2 linked regions of the Homo sapiens genome follow. The protein of the gene in region 1 interacts with the protein of each later gene in a pairwise test. Each region holds a gene or a part of one and is shown on either strand. Other genes may lie near its edges. The genes, in order: PCDHB5 and CACNA1C.

Region 1 (4,339 bases):
ATTTTCATGACCTTGGAGTATGTGAACATTTAAATAGAACACAAAAAAATGCTAATCATACATGAAACTTATTGACAAATCTGACTAAAGGTAAGAAATTTTATTCATCAAAGACACATAATAGACTTGAAATAAAAACCATAGAGTGGGAAAAGATATTTGCAATACATATATCTTAAAAAGGACTTATGCCCAGAATATATGAGAAACTTCTGCAGATCAATAAGCAAACAGGCAAATGCCTCCCCCCAAAAAAGTAAAAAGGTTTGCATAAGCCCTTCACAAGATTGTATCCTAATGGCTGATAAACATGAAAATGTGCTCAAATTGTTTAATCATCAGGGAAAATGCTAACTAAAATTACAATATCATATCACCATACACTAACCAGAGTGGTTTAAAATGGAAAAGATAGCATCAAATGTTGACAAGAATGTGGAGCAACTGGAACTCTCATACTTTGCTGGTATTAGTACGACTACTTGAGAAAACTTTCTCATTATCTGCTAAAGCAAAATATATGTGCACATCTTAATGCATAGCAATCCAACTCCTTTGAATATATTCAACATAAACACATATATGTGGTCACCAAAAGACTAGTACAAGGATGTTTATACCAGTACTACCCCAAAGAGCTTAAACCTGGAAAACAATGTTCATCAACTGGAGAATGAATAAATAAATCATAGTATATTCATACAACAGAATGATATAAAGCAATGAGAATAAAACAAATAAGAACAAGATGCCACAGATCAATTTGCTGAACATAATATTGAGGAGAAGAAGCCAGACACACGAGAGTAACAATCTATAACTCCATTTGTATAAAGTTAAAAAAAAAAAAAGCAAAAAAAACCTATGACAACAGAAGTCAGGACAGTGCTTATCTTTTGGGGAGAGGGTGGTAACCAGACAATAGCAGGTGGGGACTTGGGTTTGGGTAGTATTTTTAATCTAGGTTCTACTTACAGGAGTGTGTTCACTTTGCGAAAATTCATTGAGTTATACACCTATGATTTGTGCCATTTTCTGGGTGTTATTGGTGTTTACTTCAAAGTGAAAGTAATTTTTCTTAAACTTTAAATTTCTATAGATATTCCTGATCACTTATTTAATATAATCAAATAAGAAACACCAAACAAAGTGTATTTGTGTACTCAAGGGTACTTTTATGGAGATTAATATATAATTTTAGTTTTTTTCTCAAAAGTATTTTCTCACTGAAAATTAACTCCACAACATTTATTTAGAACTTTCAGCAACTAAGAGCTGGAGATACCATCGGGAGAGCTTATGTGACAAAAGGGTATGGATACACGTCAGTTAGAATTTAGGATGAAATGGCAAATACTATATGCAATAGTAAATTAGGACGCCTGGTGGCGCTGCAGGCTAAGAGTGTGGATAGTGGGCTCTGCGGATAACTCAGACGCCATTAAGCTGGGGAATCCAAACTCTAAAAGAAGGACGCATTTTAGGTAAGATCTAGTGGCTAGATCTTCAGGGTGGGCTTCGTTCTTGTGGAAATCAGTCAAGAAAGATCGGATTCGCGGTTATTTATGCAAATCATCTGGGTGGATTGTGTACGGAGTTAAACTGCGCCTTCTGGACCGGGTCTGAACAATGGAGACTGCGCTAGCAAAAACGCCACAGAAAAGGCAAGTTATGTTTCTTGCTATATTGTTGCTTTTGTGGGAGGCTGGCTCTGAGGCAGTTAGGTATTCCATACCAGAAGAAACAGAAAGTGGCTATTCTGTGGCCAACCTGGCAAAAGACCTGGGTCTTGGGGTGGGGGAACTGGCCACTCGGGGCGCGCGAATGCATTACAAAGGAAACAAAGAGCTCTTGCAGCTTGATATAAAGACCGGCAATTTGCTTCTATATGAAAAACTAGACCGGGAGGTGATGTGCGGGGCGACAGAACCCTGTATATTGCATTTCCAGCTCTTACTAGAAAATCCAGTGCAGTTTTTTCAAACTGATCTGCAGCTCACAGATATAAATGACCATGCCCCAGAGTTCCCAGAGAAGGAAATGCTCCTAAAAATCCCAGAGAGCACCCAGCCAGGGACTGTGTTTCCCTTAAAAATAGCCCAGGACTTTGACATAGGTAGCAACACTGTTCAGAACTACACAATCAGCCCAAATTCACACTTTCATGTTGCTACGCATAATCGCGGAGATGGCAGAAAATACCCAGAGCTGGTGCTGGACAAAGCGCTGGACCGGGAGGAGCGGCCTGAGCTCAGCTTAACACTCACTGCACTGGACGGTGGGGCTCCGCCCAGGTCCGGGACCACCACAATTCGCATTGTCGTCTTGGATAATAATGACAACGCCCCCGAATTTTTACAATCATTCTATGAGGTACAGGTGCCCGAGAACAGCCCCCTTAACTCCTTAGTTGTCGTTGTCTCCGCTCGAGATTTAGATGCAGGAGCATATGGGAGTGTAGCCTATGCTCTATTCCAAGGCGATGAAGTTACTCAACCATTTGTAATAGACGAGAAAACAGCAGAAATTCGCCTGAAAAGGGCATTGGATTTCGAGGCAACTCCATATTATAACGTGGAAATTGTAGCCACAGATGGTGGGGGCCTTTCAGGAAAATGCACTGTGGCTATAGAAGTGGTGGATGTGAATGACAACGCCCCTGAACTCACCATGTCTACGCTCTCCAGCCCTACCCCAGAAAATGCCCCGGAAACTGTAGTTGCCGTTTTCAGTGTTTCTGATCCAGACTCCGGGGACAACGGTAGGATGATTTGCTCCATCCAGAATGATCTCCCCTTTCTTTTGAAGCCCACATTAAAAAACTTTTACACCCTAGTGACACAGAGAACACTGGACAGAGAGAGCCAAGCCGAGTACAACATCACCATCACTGTCACCGACATGGGGACACCCAGGCTGAAAACCGAGCACAACATAACGGTCCTGGTCTCCGACGTCAATGACAACGCCCCCGCCTTCACCCAAACCTCCTACACCCTGTTCGTCCGAGAGAACAACAGCCCCGCCCTGCACATCGGCAGTGTCAGCGCCACAGACAGAGACTCAGGCACCAACGCCCAGGTCACCTACTCGCTGCTGCCGCCCCAGAACCCACACCTGCGCCTCGCCTCCCTGGTCTCCATCAACGCGGACAACGGCCACCTGTTTGCCCTCAGGTCGCTGGACTACGAGGCCCTGCAGGCGTTCGAGTTCCGCGTGGGAGCCACAGACCGCGGCTCCCCGGCGCTGAGCAGCGAGGCGCTGGTGCGCGTGCTGGTGCTGGACGCCAACGACAACTCGCCCTTCGTGCTGTATCCGCTGCAGAACGGCTCGGCGCCTTGCACCGAGCTGGTGCCCCGGGCGGCCGAGCCGGGCTACCTGGTGACCAAGGTGGTGGCGGTGGACGGTGACTCGGGCCAGAACGCCTGGCTGTCGTACCAGCTGCTCAAGGCCACGGAGCCCGGGCTGTTCAGCATGTGGGCGCACAATGGCGAGGTGCGCACCGCCAGGCTGCTGAGCGAGCGCGACGCGGCCAAGCACAGGCTGGTGGTGCTGGTCAAGGACAATGGCGAGCCTCCGCGCTCGGCCACCGCCACGCTGCACGTGCTCCTGGTGGACGGCTTCTCCCAGCCCTACCTGCCGCTGCCGGAGGCGGCCCCGGCCCAGGCCCAGGCCGACTCGCTCACTGTCTACCTGGTGGTGGCATTGGCCTCGGTGTCGTCGCTCTTCCTCTTTTCGGTGCTCCTGTTCGTGGCAGTGCGGCTGTGCAGGAGGAGCAGGGCGGCCCCGGTCGGTCGCTGCTCGGTGCCCGAGGGCCCCTTTCCAGGGCATCTGGTGGACGTGAGCGGCACCGGGACCCTATCCCAGAGCTACCACTACGAGGTGTGTTTGACCGGAGACTCAGGGGCCGGCGAGTTCAAGTTCCTGAAGCCGATTATTCCTAACCTTTTGCCCCAGGGCGCTGGTGAAGAAATAGGGAAAACTGCTGCCTTCCGGAATAGCTTTGGATTAAATTAGAGATCTCGTGATGACGCGTTGTTTTCTGCCATTTATCCCAAACTTTTTCAGATCTAGAATTCGAGAGTGTCATGGACAAAAATTTCACCTTGAGATTGAGCTTTTATTTCCCTTTTTAATGGATTTGTCTGTTGAACTTCATGCTGTCCAAGTGTTGAAAAGTCAATTTTATTTCATTGCATTTATTTACATAGTGTCATTCCAAATCCATGCATGCTGTTGATTTTCCTGAGATTTTTTTCTCTTCTTGTTGGTATTTGTTGTGATAAACCACCTTAATAAAATCAAGTATTAATTTTATTTTCTATATATTCTGCCCATT
Region 2 (3,817 bases), on another chromosome or scaffold:
ATATTGGGGAAGTAGGTAGACCACTGAATCATACACATCAAAAGGGTAAATTTTACGGTATGCGAATTATACCTCAACAAAGCTGCTATTTCAAAATAAATAAATAAATAATGCATGAAGTCTGGAGAGCTCAGCTTACAGGGATGGTCCCCGGGACTCACGGGAATCTCGTTTGAGAATGGAGAGTGTCTATTTTCCTGGAGGGAGTGACTGAGGAAATATTCCAAGAATGGGTGGTGAAGCAAGGCCATGCCACAAATGGGTCCCCCGGGAGACAAGGTGTACTGACCTAGGTGGTCTGTGAAGGCCTGTGAGGAGATGTGAAGAAGCAAGGAGGGCCCTGGCAGAAACCCTGGGAATAAGGGGAAAGAAAGCCAGAGGACGGGACCAGGAGGGGAGGCGGGGTACCACGACAACATGCAGCCATCAAGTAAGAACAAGGATTCCAGCTCTGAGCTTCCACAAGGCAAATCTAAGCCAGGTTCCAGAAGGCAAGGACAAGGTCATTTTCCCAGGATAGAGAGATAGTGGGTTTCTCTTTCTACTGTTCTCCATGGGGAGAAGTAACAGAAAGAGCAAATGTTTTGAAAGTCCGACAGACCTGAATTTAATTCCCAGCCCCAACACTGTCTGGGTGGCTGTGGCCACATTGCTTAAGACTTTGGTCCTCAGTTTCCTTATCTAAAAAATATAATTAAAACCCACGTGGTAGGATTACTGTAAGGATAAAACATATTAAGCACATGAAGCACCAAGAACATTGTCTAACACATGCTAGGCATTCAATAAATGGTGGCTATTACTCTTGCTCTATTTTAAAATTATAACAAGGTAGATGTTATACCTCAATACAGCTTTTTTTCTTTAGAGAAAAATTAAAACATATATGGCTCCACAGATCACAGGACCAGAGCTGGGGGTAGAACAAGGTGCAAACAAATGCGAAAGTGCGAAAGTTTCCCAGCATACTTTTTGATGATGGGATTATTTTTGCTTTGGGAAACTAAAACTAATCCTGTCACTTAGACTATAATGTTAAAGCTCTTTCCTATTTTGATCAGTGTCTTAGGGAGCTACACAGAACTGTCCCCTCTATCTCCAAACCTGCAACATTTTGGCTATGAAAAATAAATAAGTTTATTTTCCAAACCCAAAGTTTACTTTTGAAGCAAAGTTTTATTTTCCAGCCCGTCCTCCTGTACTGGGAAGTTGGGTTTAGGTTTGGGGAATTCACGTTCAAAAGTGAGGAGACATTGGTTGCCCAGGTGGTGTTCTTCCTGCCCTCAATGGCCCTATTTTCAGGCCATGAAAGGACTTCAGGCCAGCGTGGCTTTGGACTTGAGGCCGAAGCCAGGCAGCCATGTGTGGTGGCAGTGAGGGGACAGCAGCATGGCAGGTGGACAGCTGCCAGGCGTCGGATACCCTGCATCCCCATGTCCTCACCCTCAGCTTGGAAACAGCAGCAGTGCCAGCAGTGCACATGGCTCCACCGTCCTGGGAGCCTACTGGCCACAGGCTCCTAGACTCTCTGGAGGGCAAAATACCAGGCCCATCTCAACCAATGGTTCACTTCCTCCCTGATTATTCTGGTATCAGCCAGACCACCTCAGACTCTGGTTTCTCTTTGTTTTACATTTTCACCTTTAAAATATTGAATAATGTCAGCCCTCCCACAACACCTCCAAAGTTGTTTGAAATGCTGTGAATGTTACTTCATGGCGTTGCTTTTCCAAACTCTGGTGCTCTGCTCGCTGATGGGGAGAATAAGAGTAGCTGATGTTTGAACAGCGATATACACTCATTCTCCTATTTGGATCCTCACAGCTGCCCTGCGAAGTGAATTGGCTAAGGATTATTATCTCCACTTTACAGACAAAAAAAAAAAAAGGGATTTGATTCCTTCTGAACTCTCAGAGAAAGAGATGAAGTCAAAGAATGTGACCCAAGACCCAAGTCATTTCTCTAGCCTACAGCCTTATTTATTCTTTAGCTATTTACTTTGTTACTTTTGTTAATGTCTTTGAAAGGTTTTAGCCCAACGTAGATTATTTTGGAAGAAAGAAAGGAATATAAATGACTGTACATGACACAATGGTTATAAAGTAAATAGAGCTTAATTGAGTACTCAAGTCAACATTTCTGCCCACAGGCAATATGGAGAAGAACATTCATTCACTGTCTAGATTTTGGCTTGGTTCTCTAAAGGACAGGAGACAAGATTATTTTATTTTCCTTTTAGCTAGGTTCAAGTGGGCAACACCAAGTGTAGCCGAGTGTATTAAAAGAAACCCCTGTTGGCAAATTGGCAGCTTGAATATTTCATGAAATTATCACAACACTATGTTCTGAAATGATGGCTTCCTCCAGGGAACTCAAAAGCCACATCTCTAAGCATGAGCCTGGCTCATGCCTCCGTCTTCAAGCTAGACCGAGTCAGCCTCAGAGGCCTTCCAGTTTCTCAGAGATGACTTGAAAGAGTATGAAACAAGTCAGCCAATGAACACTTCAAGGAAGATGGGAATGTCAGAGGCAGGTCCTAGTGATTCTCTTCCATGGGCTGAGTCTACCACCACTGCTGGGAATGTCTCCTGGGAGTAGGCCGGGGGTCCTAGGAGACCAACCCTGACATGGGAGCAGAAAGACGCCCTTGGTCGCCCAGCTCAGGTGGAGTCTGTGGCAGCCTGTCTCACAGTCTCTACCCTGGGGCTGATCTGTGTGTCTATACCCCAGCTACTGGTAATGCCAGCTGGTCCATGAAGAATCCCAGCAGCTCACCAGGGAAGTCCCACAGCACAGCCCGGCTTCCCATCCCCATCCCACTCTCGCAAAGGGGCTGAAACAAGCCTAGATTGGGGCCGAGAGGAAGTGAGCAAATAAAAAAGGCTTAGAGGCAGATCTGTTTGCAGACAAAATCGTGATCTGAATTTTGCAGGAGTTTCTTGTGGACATGTATGAACTTCTACTCTGTAGCCTAAGAAAGTGTTTTTAAACCTTTCCAATGATAGATTTCCCCCACCCCACCCTTCCAACTCCATTCCTAAATCTAACATCGCAGAAATTATTTTAAGGCAGTACAAAGGTGGAGGCAGGGGGAGGAAGAATAGAGAGGTTGAAAGATCTACCAAGCAAAATTTAGCCAGAAGCACTAACAATGCTCTCTCAGGGGGCCAGCACCAAGTGTGGTACAGGCAGGAGGATGAAGAGACTGAAGACCTTGTATTTAGTTACATCCCTGCCTCCATGAACCTTTAGGGGCCTCTGTTTTCTCAACTGGAAATGAGGATTGTCTCTAAGGTTCCTTTACCCATAAAATGTCCTGATCCTAGAAAGTAAATTCCCAAAGAGACATTACATTTATTCTATGTTTGACAAACCCTTTAACGAACCAGAGCCTAGCCCCTTGCCCCCTATACACACAGGGTATAGCACAAGAAGCCCATTTTAAAGTGAAGGTGTTTTGCAGAGAACTGTTCTGTGGGGTTTTGGGGAGGGGAGGGGCTGAGAGGTTTGGGTTTCTTGCCAGTTAACCCCCGCTTTCCTCACCCTCTGCTTCAGCCAGATGAACCCTTCCTCTAGTTCCCTCGGCTTCCAGGGAAGGAAGGGTCTATTTTCAACCTCGGTCCGACTCCTGAGCTCCAGGCCCAAACTTCTCTCCTACAGTCCCTACAATCCCAACTTAAATTCAGTTCAGCTCCACAAGGAGTAACTGACTACCCTGATGACCTTGTTCCCCAAACCCTCCCAGACACCCTAGGGAGTTGGGGCTCCTCTGGCTTCCCCTCACCTTCTGCATCTCAGCTCTCGGAGGCTCCAGCCA

The links.
Region 2: the proteins of PCDHB5 (region 1) and CACNA1C interact in binary tests that used the Homo sapiens proteins (3 or more experiments, as listed by UniProt).

The regions. Positions count from the first base shown.
Region 1 is NC_000005.10:141,133,806-141,138,144, forward strand, and holds the start of PCDHB5 (protocadherin beta-5 precursor), read left to right. Parts: upstream 1-1,400; 5' UTR 1,401-1,629; coding exon 1,630-4,017; 3' UTR 4,018-4,339. UniProt on the Homo sapiens protein: Potential calcium-dependent cell-adhesion protein. May be involved in the establishment and maintenance of specific neuronal connections in the brain.
Region 2 is NC_000012.12:2,059,201-2,063,017, reverse strand, and holds part of CACNA1C (voltage-dependent L-type calcium channel subunit alpha-1C), read right to left. Parts: intron 1-3,817. UniProt on the Homo sapiens protein: Pore-forming, alpha-1C subunit of the voltage-gated calcium channel that gives rise to L-type calcium currents. Mediates influx of calcium ions into the cytoplasm, and thereby triggers calcium release from the sarcoplasm.